2 separate regions of the Homo sapiens genome follow, and region 1 is linked to region 2. Evidence: fine-mapped expression QTL. A gene starts in region 2. The other region holds a variant in brackets. All regions are shown on one strand. Distances are from middle to middle.

Region 1 (5,371 bases), 29 kb after region 2:
ACGGCAGCTCTTTGCACCAATGTTGGCTTGTCATTGGTGCGGCTGTGTTGGGGGCAGAATCCTTTGTGGGTAGCCTAGGAACCTGACCCTTCCAGCAAGAGTTTCTCTGACAACACATGCCCCCTCTTGCCTTAACAGTCAGTGGAAACACTTAAAAAAAAAAACAAAAAACCTTTATTGAGATATAATCTCATATACCATATAAGATCACCCATTTAAAGCATACAGTTCAATGACTTTTAGTATATTTATTCAGAGATTTGTACATCACCACAGTCAATTTTAGAACATTTTTATCACCTCAGGAAGAAACCCCCCACCCTTTAGCTAACTCTTCGCCAAACTTCTTATCCCCTCTCCCAGTCCTAAGCAACCACTAATCTACTTTCTGTGTCTGTAGAATTCCCTGCTCTGAGTTCTCATATGAATGGAATTTTATAATATGTTGCCTTTTGTGTCTGGCTTCTTTCACTTAGTATAATATATTCAAGGTTCATCCAAGTTGTAGCACGTAACTATTTCTTTCCTTTTTGTGGCCATTGTATGAATATACCATATCTTGTTTATTCATTAACCCATCGATAGACATTTGGGTTATTTGCATTATTTGGCTTATGAATAATGCCACTCTAAGTATTCATGTGCAAGTTTTTGTGTAGACGTATGTTTTAATTTCTCTTTCATATGTTTTCATTTCTCTTGGGTATATACCTAAGAGTGGAATTGCTAGGTTACTGATAACTCATTGTTTAATTGACTGTTTACCAAACGAGCTGTACTGGTTTACATTCCCACCAGCAGCATGTGAGGGTTCCAGTTTCTCCACATCCTCATCAACACGTCATTATTCACTCATTTGTTTTTGGAATCTAGCCAGCCTAGTGGGTGAGAAGTGATAGCTCACTGTGATTTTGATTTGCCTTTCTTTGATGACTAATGATGTTGAGCATCTTTTCATGTGCTTATTGGTCAATTGTATATCTTCTTTGCAGAAATGTCTATTCAGATCCTTTACTCATTTTTTATTTAACTTAATTAACTTATTTATTTTGAGATGGGGTCTGGCCTTTCACCCAGGATGGAGTGCAGTGACATGATCATGGCTCATTGCACCCTCCACCTCCCAGGCTCAAGTGATCTAAGTAGCTGGGACTACAGGTGCATGCTGCCATGCCCAGCTAATTTTTAAATTATTTGTAATTATTTTATTATATCATTTAATTGTTTTGTTTAGTTATTTGTAGAGATAGAGTCTACAGACTGGTCTTAAACTCTTAGGCTGAAGCGACCTGCCTACCTGGGCCTCCCACAGTGCTGGGATTACAGGCATGAGCCACCACACCTATCCCTTCACCCATTTAAAAAATTGGGTCATCTTTTGATTATTGAGTCATAGGAGTTTTATAATTTTAGCTGTTACACTTAGGTCTTTGAGCCATTTTAAGTTAATTTTTGTGTATAGTGGAAGGTTCTTTTGCATGTGACTATCCAGTTGTCCTAGCCCCCTTTGTTGAAAAGACTATGTTTTTCCCACTGAATGGTCTTGTCACCCTTGTCGAAAATCAGTTGACCATAGATAAATTGGTTACTTTCTGACTCCCACATTAGTTCCATTGGTCTACATGTCTGTCTTTATGCCAATATTATACTGTCTTAATCACTGTTGCTTTGCAATAAGTTTTGAAATTGGAAAGTGTGAGTCTTCCTACTTTGTTTTTCTTTTTCAGGGTTATTTCAGTATTTTGGGACCCTCGCATTTTATATGAATTCTATTTTCTTTTTTCTCACAACCCAGTGTAGGCAGAATATATGAATTCTAGATTCAGCTTGTCAATTTCTACAGTCAGGTGGGATTCTGATAGGAATTGCACTGAATCTATAAAGCAGTTTGGGGAATAGTACCATGTTAACAATGTTAAGTCTTCTAATCCGTGAACATGGGATGTTTTTCCATTTATTTGGATCTTCTTTAATTTATTTCAACATTATTTTATAGTTTTCAGAGTGTAAGCTTTGCACTTTTGTTACATTTATTCCTAAGTGTTTTATTCTGTTTTTTGTTTTGTTTTGTTTTTTTGTTTTTTTTTTTGAGATGGAGTCTCACTCTATTGCCCAGGCTGGAGTGCAGTGGCACAATCTAGGCTCACTGCAACCTCCACCTCCTGGGTTCAAGCAGTTCTCCTGCCTCAGCCTCCCAAGTAGCTGGGATTACAGGTGCCCACCACCACTCCTTGCTAATTTTTGCATTTTTAGAGAGACAGGATTTCACCATGTCGGACCAGGCTGGTCTCCAACTCCTGACCTTGCTGGGATTACAGGTGTGAGCCACCGTGCCTGGCCACTAAGGGTTTTATTCTTTTTGATACAATTATGAATCAAATGTTTTTCTTAATTTTATTTTTTGATTGTGTATTGCAAATGTATAAAATTACAATTGATTTCTGTATGTTGACCATGTATCCTGCAACATTGCTAAACTCATTCATTCAAGTAGATTTTTAGTGGATTCCTTTCCTCAGTATTTTTTTTAACATATAAGATTATGTTATCTGTAAATAGATTTAGTTGTATTTCTTCCTTTCCAATTTAGGTGCCTTTTGTTTCTTTTTCTTGCTTAATTGCTCTGACTAGAACTTCCAGTAGAATATTGATTAAAGGTTGTTAGAGGCTGGATGCGGTGGCTCACGCCTGTAATCCCAGCACTTTGGGAGGCCGAGGTGGGTGGATCACGAGGTCAGGAGAT[C/T]GAGACCATCCTGGCTAACATGGTGAAACCCCATCTGTACTAAAAATACAAACAATTAGCCAGGCTTGGTGGCGGGCGCCTGTAATCCCAGCTACTCAGGAGGCTGAGGCAGGAGAATGGTGTGAACCCGGGAGGCAGAGCTTGCAGTGAGCCAAAATCACGCCACTTCACTCCAGCCTGGGCGACAGACCAAGACTCCATCTCAAAAAAAAAGGGGGGTGGTTAGAGCAGGCTGGGCATAGTGGTTCACGCCTGTAATCCCAGAACTTTGGGAGGCTGAGGCAGCCAGATCACTTGAGGTCAGGAGTTTGAGACTAAGCTGGCCAACATGGTGAAACATCATCTCTACTAAAAATACAAAAACAAAAAAAAAATTAGCCAGGCATGGTGGTGGGCACCTGTAGTCCCAGCTGCTTGGGAGACTGAGGCACAAGAATTGCTTGAACACAGGAGGCAGAGGTTGCAGTGAGTCCAGATTGTGCCACTGCACTCCAGCCTGGGTGACAGAGCAAGACTCCATCTAAAACAGTAAATAAATAAATAAAAAAGAAAAGAAAAGTGGTTAGAGCAGACATCCTTGTATTCTTGTCTTGTTCTTCATCTTAGGGGAAAAACATTCAGTCTTACCATTAAGTATGATATTAGTTGTGAGTTTTTGGTAGATACCCTTCATCAGGTTAAGGTAATTCCTTTCCATTCCTCATTGTTAGAGTGTTTTTATCATGAAAGGATGTTGGATTTTGTGAAATGCTTTTTCTGTGTTTATTGATATGATCATGTGATTTTTTAAAAAATTCTATTGATACATCAATTGACCTATGGATATTGAACCAACCTTGCATTCCTGTGATAAGTTCCACTTGGTTGTGGTGTATAATTCTTTTCATATGTTGCTAGATTTGGTTGGTTCGTATTTTGTTGAGGATTTTGTGTCCATATTCATAAGTGATATTGGTCTGTAGTTTTCTTGTGATATATGTCTGGTTTTGGTATCTGGGTGATGCCTCATAACTGAAGTGGAAAATGTCACCTCTTTGTCTATTTTTTTTAATAGTTTGCAAATAATTGGTATTAATTTGTCTTCAAAAGATTGGTAGGATTCAGTGGTGAAGCCATTTGGGCCTGAGTGTGTGTGTGTGTGTGTGTGTGTGTGTATGTGTGTATAGTTTTTTGTTGTTATATTTACCAATCAGTCTCTTGACTTGTTATCCATCTATTCAGATTATCTATTTATTCTCAAATTAGTTTTGGTAGTTTGTGTCTCACTAGGAATTTGTCCATTTCATCTAAATTATAAAATTTGTTGGTGTACAGCTATCATTGTATCCTTTTATAATGCTTTTTATTTCTGTTGCTCCCCTCTTTCATTTCTGATTCTGGTGAGTAATTTGAAGTTTTTGTTTTGTTTTGTTTTGTTTTGTTTTGTTTTGTTTTTGAGACAGAGTCTTACTCTGTCACCCAGGCTGAAGTGCAGTGGCATGATAAGAGCTCACTGCAGCCTTGAACTCCTGGGCTTAGGTGATTCTTCAACCTCCCAAGTAGCTGGGACTGCAGGCATGCACCACCAAGCCCAGCTAATTTTCTTTTTTTGTAGAGATGTGGTCTCACTATGTCATCCAGGCTGCTTTTGAACTCCTGGCCTCAAACAATCCTCCTGCCTTGGCCTCCCAAAGCACTGACATTACAGGTGTGAACCACCGCCCCCAGCCAAGTCTTCTCTCTCTTTTTTTGCCCACCGTGGTCAACCTAGCTAAAGGTTTGTCAATTTTGTTGATGTTTTCGAAGAGCCAGTTTTTGGTTTCATTAATTTTCTCTATTATTTTTCTATTCTCTATTTCATTAACCTTTACTGTAATATTTATTATTTCTTTCTGTTCTTTCTGGTTTAGTTTGCTCTTTTTCCATTGTCTTAACATGGAAGGTTAGGTTAAGGTTATTGATTTGAGATCTTCTTTCTTAATATAGGCATTCACACATATTACATTTATACTTCTAGGCATGTCTTTTCTTTTTTTGACATGGGGTCTCACTCCATCGCCCAGGCTGGAGTGCAGTGGTGTGATAGCTCACTGCAACCTCCGCCTCCCAGGCTCAAGTGATCCTCCCACCTCAGCCTCCTGAGTAGCTGGGAACACAGGCGCCAGCTAATTTTTTCTGTTTTTAGTAGAGATGGGGTTTCACCATGTTGCACAGGCTGGTCTCGAACTCCTGTGCTCAAGCAATCTGCCTGTCTCAGCCTCCCAAAGTGCTGGGATTACAGGCGTGAGCCACCGGGCCTGGCCTGGCCTTTACCTGTGTCTCATAAGTTTTTTGGTTTTTTTTTTTTTTTCTGAGAGGGAGTCTTGCTCTGTCGCCCAGGCTGGAGTGCAGTGGCACGATCTCGGCTTACTGCAAGCTCCGCCTCCCGGGTTCACGCCATTCTCCTGGCTCAGCCTCCCGAGTAGCTGGGACTATAGGCGCCTGCCACCACGCCCGGCTAATTTTTTGTATTTTTAGTGGAGATGGGGTTTCACTGTGTTAGCCAGGATGGTCTCCATCTCCTGACCTTGTGATCTGCCTGCCTCGGCCTCCCAAAGTGCTGGGATTACAGGCGTGAGCCACCGTGCCCGGCCATAAGTTTTGATATGT
Region 2 (5,371 bases):
CAGGAATCAATGAAGGGAGACCAGCCCCCCTCAAAAGACCCCAGCTTCAGGCCTGGCAGGGGGTGTGGATTGGGCTGTGGGTGGGAGGGACTGAGTTTTTAGGTGGGGATGGGAAGGTAAGGCCACCTCTTGGAACAGGATGGCTGGCATTTCAGAACTCACACACAGACTCTGGTCCAACAAGTTCATCAGGTAGAATTTTTAAAATAGAGGCTATTCCCGAAAACCCTGGCTGACATGTGGCTGTGCTCGCAGTCCAGAGGAGTCAGGACAGGGCTGTGGGGAGAGGAGGTTAGAGGCTTCATGTTGTGGCATCTGGCCTTGTTCCACCCCAAAACCCATGTGTTCCAAGAGCTCATTCACTCATTCATTCACTCATCAAACACTGATGCCTTTGAGTCGGGTCCTGTGGTGGGCACTGGGAGCAAAGGATGAACTAGGGGCACCAGTGACAGTGGGGGACAGTATGTCCTCTTTAAATATATATATCAGCATTTCCAACATCAGGATGCATTTTCCAATTGATGCTGACATGTAACGAGGCTTCACTCCCCACTGTCGAAACTTGCAACAATGCATCTTGCAACTGAAAATGGAAAACAGGGCCTAGAAGGTGGTAAGTGTAGAATTGGAGATGTACATAGTTGGGGTCAGGGAGTCAGGGAAGACTACCTGGAGGAGGTGAGTCTTAGCGGATGAGTAGGAGTTGTCCACGGAGGAAGGTACACAGAAGGGCTTCCAGGCCCAGGAAACAGCAGAGGCACAGAAGTGAGAATGGGTGGGTGAGTTGGTGGGGAAACTCCAGGTGCAGAGGATGGTAGCGAAACAAACTGGAGCATTCAAGGTCCAAGTCCTCCAAGATCTTGACTTGCAGATTAAGGAGTTTGTTCACCTAATCTGCTTTGGGCAGAGTGTGGTGAGTCCTAGAGACCCCTCTAGGTCTCTCACTCTCAGTAGCCCCAGAAGGCCTGGAGAGCTGCTTCTGGGTGCCAAGCAGGCAGTGACTCCATCAGATCTAGATTTGGGAAAAGCATCCCTGGTCAGGGCCTGCATCAGGGCAGTGGCTGGCCATGAGGACCCTGAGAAGTAGACAGATTCACGGAGATTCTCAGGAGGCCAGACAGGAGACTATGGTGACAAATTAGATTAGAGAAGGGGAGAGAATGAAGGAGCAGTTGGGGAAAAGAAAACTGAGGCTCTGACATGGGTATATGGGTGGCGAGTGACTCACCACCCACTGAGAGGAGAACCTCACAAGCTCTGACATGCTCTGGTTCCAGGTTCTGTTGGGGCTGATCCAAGATGGTAGCCTAGAGGTGCACAGAGATGGGGGCCTTGCTTTGCAAAAGGATGCTGGCTGCTGGCCCACAGCATGGTAATGAGATTTGAGCTTTATGTGCCCAGGGCTGGGAGGAGGGTCCTGTCACTTTGAAAGCAAAGAGAGGCTCTAGAGAGGGGCATGTTGAGATAGGAATGCTGCCTTGAGACACCTGGCTTTCCCCACTCTGGGTGGGCTCTCAGCAGGGTGGGTTTCCCCTGCCAGGCAGCACTGAAACCTCTGTGCGCTTCCGGGCTGGGAGAGTTTTTACCGTAACTACATGTGGAACCATCCTGAAGGAACATCTGGATGGGATGGGGTACAGGGAAGGGAGCTGCCAAGAGTGCTGGCCAGGGACCTGGGTCTATGAGCTGGTTGGGGGGTGGGGTTGGGTGCAGGGTACTTGATCCTGAGTGGGCCTTCTGCGGCCAGGATTGGTTCTAGAGTAGGAGGGGTGGGATCAGGGATGGGGGAAGCCTGTAACTGCGCTGCAGTTGTCAGGTCCCAGGTTCTGGGTGACCTACTAAGGATTCTGGGTCCAGTGTGGGTCCCAGGTTAGACGTCCTAGTCCTGAGTCCGTGTCCACAGTTCTGGGTGTTGAGTCTAGGACAGTGATCTGGAGTTGACAGTCCAATCTAGGTCTGAGTCCTGACCCCAAGTCTAGAGTTCAGGGTCATGGTAGTAGCCTAGGGTCAGAATCAAGGTTGGGGTCAGTAACCAGGATGGGATCGAGGTCATGGTCCAAAATCTGGATCTGGGGACCTGTTGGGGGTCTGAGGTGAGTGTCGCAGTCTGGGTATGGCGTTGGAGACCCAGGGCTGTGATCTGAGGTCATGGTTAGAGTCTGAGGTGGTGGGCCAAGGTTTGAGTCTGGGGTCCTGTTTGGAGTCTGGTGTCAGGTCGTGGACTGCGTCCAAGGTCAGGGAGTCCGGGGTTATAGCCAGGGTCTGAGATGAAAGTCCCAGGATGGTGTTCAGAGGTCTGAATCTGTGTCTTGGTGAGCGTCCAGGTTCCCTGTGATCACGTTTGGTGTCAGGGCTGCGGCCCGACTGGGGAGCCTGGGATCCAGAGATGTGACCCGAGGTTGTGGTCAGAGAATGGGTCTCGGGTCGTCTTCCGTGCCGGGTCCCTGTCGTGTTCCAGGCCCGGGTCTCCGTCCAGCATCGAGGGCCGAGGTCACGGCCAGGGTCTGAGCCCGCGGTCGCAGGTCTGGTTCGGGGTCAGATTCCGCGCGGCCTCCAGGGGGCGCCGTCGCCCGCCCGGCTCGGCCCCTCGCGGGCTCGCTGGCGTTGTGCGCGGCAGGCGGGGCCGGAGGCGGCGGCGGCTCCGGGGCGCGGGCGCGCGGGCGGCGGCGGCGGCGGCGCCCCGACTGCAGTCCCGGCGGGAGCGGAGCGCGAGCCGGGGCCGGGCCCGAGCCGGCGCCATGGGGCGGCGCCGCCTGTGAGCGGCGGCGAGCGGAGCCGCGGGCGCCGAGCAGGGCCAGGCGGGAGGCGTCGGCGCCCGAGGCCGAGCGAGCCGCGGCCGGGCCGGGCCGAGCGCCGAGCGAGCAGGAGCGGCGGCGGCGGCGGCGGCGGCGGGAGGAGGCAGCGCCGCCGCCAAGATGGCGGACCTGGAGGCGGTGCTGGCCGACGTGAGCTACCTGATGGCCATGGAGAAGAGCAAGGCCACGCCGGCCGCGCGCGCCAGCAAGAAGATCCTGCTGCCCGAGCCCAGGTGAGGAGAAGCTGCCCGCGGCCCCGGCCCGACCCCGCGGGCGCCCCGGCCGCGGCCCCGAGACCCTGGCCCCATGCTCGACCCCGCGACCTGGACCCCCGGGGCCGGCTCTCGCAACCCCCTGTCGGCCCCCCAGCCCGGAGCAGCCCGGCCTTGGCGCCTGCGGGTCCAGACCCTAAGCCCCAGACCCTGGGCGCCTGAGCCCGGAGCGCCCCAACTCCGGAGCTCCTCTGCCCCATCGGTCCCCGGACCCAGTCGGGTCCCCCTGGCCGCCCTGCTGCTTCCTTATCGTGCTCCACCGGCCCCCCGAAGTCGCTGTCAGCCCCTGGCTCCCGCCTTCTCCCACGGGGGCCCGGCGCGCCCCTTCATCCTTCTCGGAGCAGCCCTTGGTCCCTGTGGGGTCCCCTCCCCTCCGCTGGCCACCATTTACCTCGCCTGACGATGTCACCCACCCTTTTGCTGTCCCTGCTCACGGCACTCGCTTTAGGGTTTCCACTACCCCCACCCGTCTCTCCTCCAGTCTACACTTGTGTGAGGTGTTGGGGGACAGCCAGTCTTCCGGACTCTTCTCCCACCCTCTGGTGGGGTCGCTGTCCTGGAGTTGGGCTCGAGAGTGCTTTCAGGGCGGCGTGGTGAGCAGGACCTAGGGTGCTGCGGGCACCCTCCCCCTCGGACCGCGCTCAGGTCGGGGAAACATCCCCTGTGCCCTCTCCCCTACATTTCTCCTCTGGCAGGCCCTGCATATGGTGCCCCGTGGGTGCTGTTGACCAGGGGCCCTCCCAGCACACCTGCAATGGCTGGACCTTAGCTGCCGCCTCTGTAAGACAACTGACATCACACCTGGTATCAAAGTTTAGACTGTTCAGGATGTAGGTGCAAAAGTACACAGGATGTGGACGATTGCTGCGGTTTGTCCAGCATTTTATGGCTGATAGAGTATCTCTCCACTGTGTGAGCCTCTCAGCAGCGCATGGGGTGGCGAGGACAGGTGTGGTTTTGTCCCTGTGGAACAGATGGGGAAACTGAAGCTCCAGAGGTGAGTGGCCTGCCCCGAGTCACACAGGTAGTCCCAGGTGGCACCTGGCCAACAGATCAGGGCTTCAGACTTCTGGTTCTACATTTCATCAGCTACCCTGGCCTGTGCCAGGGAGCAGACGTGCCCGCCACGATTCTTTGTGTCGTGTGGCAACTCCTTGTGCATGCCTGAGAGTTGGCCTCCTCCTGGTGCCCCAGCGGGCTGGGGATGGGGCCTGTCCACACTGCCGTGGTCTTATCTTGTGACTCTGGGTAAGTCTCTTCCCTCACTGGGCCTCGGTCTTCTCATCTGTGAAATGTGGATGGCGTGAAATAAGAGCTGTGACTCTGCGGTGTCCCTCAGCCTTTGAAGCAGCCGTCTAAGCTCTGGCTGACGCTGCAGGGGTGCCCCATGCCCATGGCCCTCACCGCCCCCCTGTGCCATGCCCTGCTCACTGGGTGTTTGGATTGACTGAACGTCAGGCCTGGGAGAGGAAAATTGGTCTGCATTTTGAAAAGGCCGTTAGGGCCTTTTTTTTTCTAAGACATTTGCAATCAGATTTCTCAAAACAGGAACCAGACTGACTGTCAGCTGGGGGCTGTCCAGGGAGCAGTGACGGTTAGTACAGAAATGAGTTCAGAAATGACAAACCCACGAGGGAGGAAACGGGGGAGTCAGCCTCTAGGGCTCAAAACGGCTCTCCTTGGTGGCTGCAGCCTCGAGACCCTCCTGCAGGATGGAGTTCTGCAACTGTGAGGCGGGGCCTTTTCTGGAACTGTCTGCGTTCGGGTAATCTCCCCCCAGAATGCATTGCTTCTGATGGGGCGCCGCCTTGGCTCTGCAGGTGTCAGAACCCTGAGAAACGAGATGGTCTTCTTTTCCTGTCCCCTTTCCCATCCATGGTAGTGATGGCGGTGATAGCAATAATGATAGGAATTATTACTGACTTACCTATTTTGATATCTGTCATCTCAGTTCTTCCAGCAACCAACCTGTGAAGCTGGCAAGGCCATGCCTTGCATGTAGTAGTTGCTCAAGAAATACCAGGACTGTGTGGCACCCCCATGCAGTCCTGAGCAGAAACAAGGTTGGATAGGATTCTAGGAGGACAGCAGGAGGCCGAGCCAGGCAGCCCAGGTTTTCACATTGGGTCACCATCAGCAGCATGGCCTTCCGCAAATCGCCCACATCTGTGAAACGGACTGGAGGTGCGAGCGCCGAATGTCAGTGCGCTAAGGCCTGGGAAGGGCTACTGGCCACCCCTACATGGGGGTCCAGGCCTGGGGCATTAGGGAGCAGGCCACCCTTTGCATAACGCCTTGCCT

The links. PIP is the estimated chance that this variant, and not a neighbour inherited with it, causes the effect. A credible set is the group of variants that fine-mapping cannot tell apart.
Region 1: its variant is the best candidate, but not a certain one, in a credible set for the expression of GRK2 in whole blood (TOPMed, PIP 0.57).

What each region holds. Positions count from the first base shown.
Region 1 is chr11:67,292,470-67,297,840 of GRCh38, forward strand. The region is part of intron 6 of ANKRD13D (ankyrin repeat domain 13D); the gene reads left to right. Among named protein-coding and RNA genes, the nearest start is that of ANKRD13D, 5.9 kb to the left of the region's middle. The variant C/T (reference allele first, on the strand shown) is at 2,744.
Region 2 is chr11:67,263,782-67,269,152 of GRCh38, forward strand. GRK2 (G protein-coupled receptor kinase 2) reads left to right here and starts at 2,692. Exons shown (of 21, transcript NM_001619.5): 1 at 2,692-3,031. The coding sequence starts at 2,919. RefSeq lists silencers at 2,481-2,680, 4,601-4,650 and enhancers at 4,211-4,260, 4,961-5,020.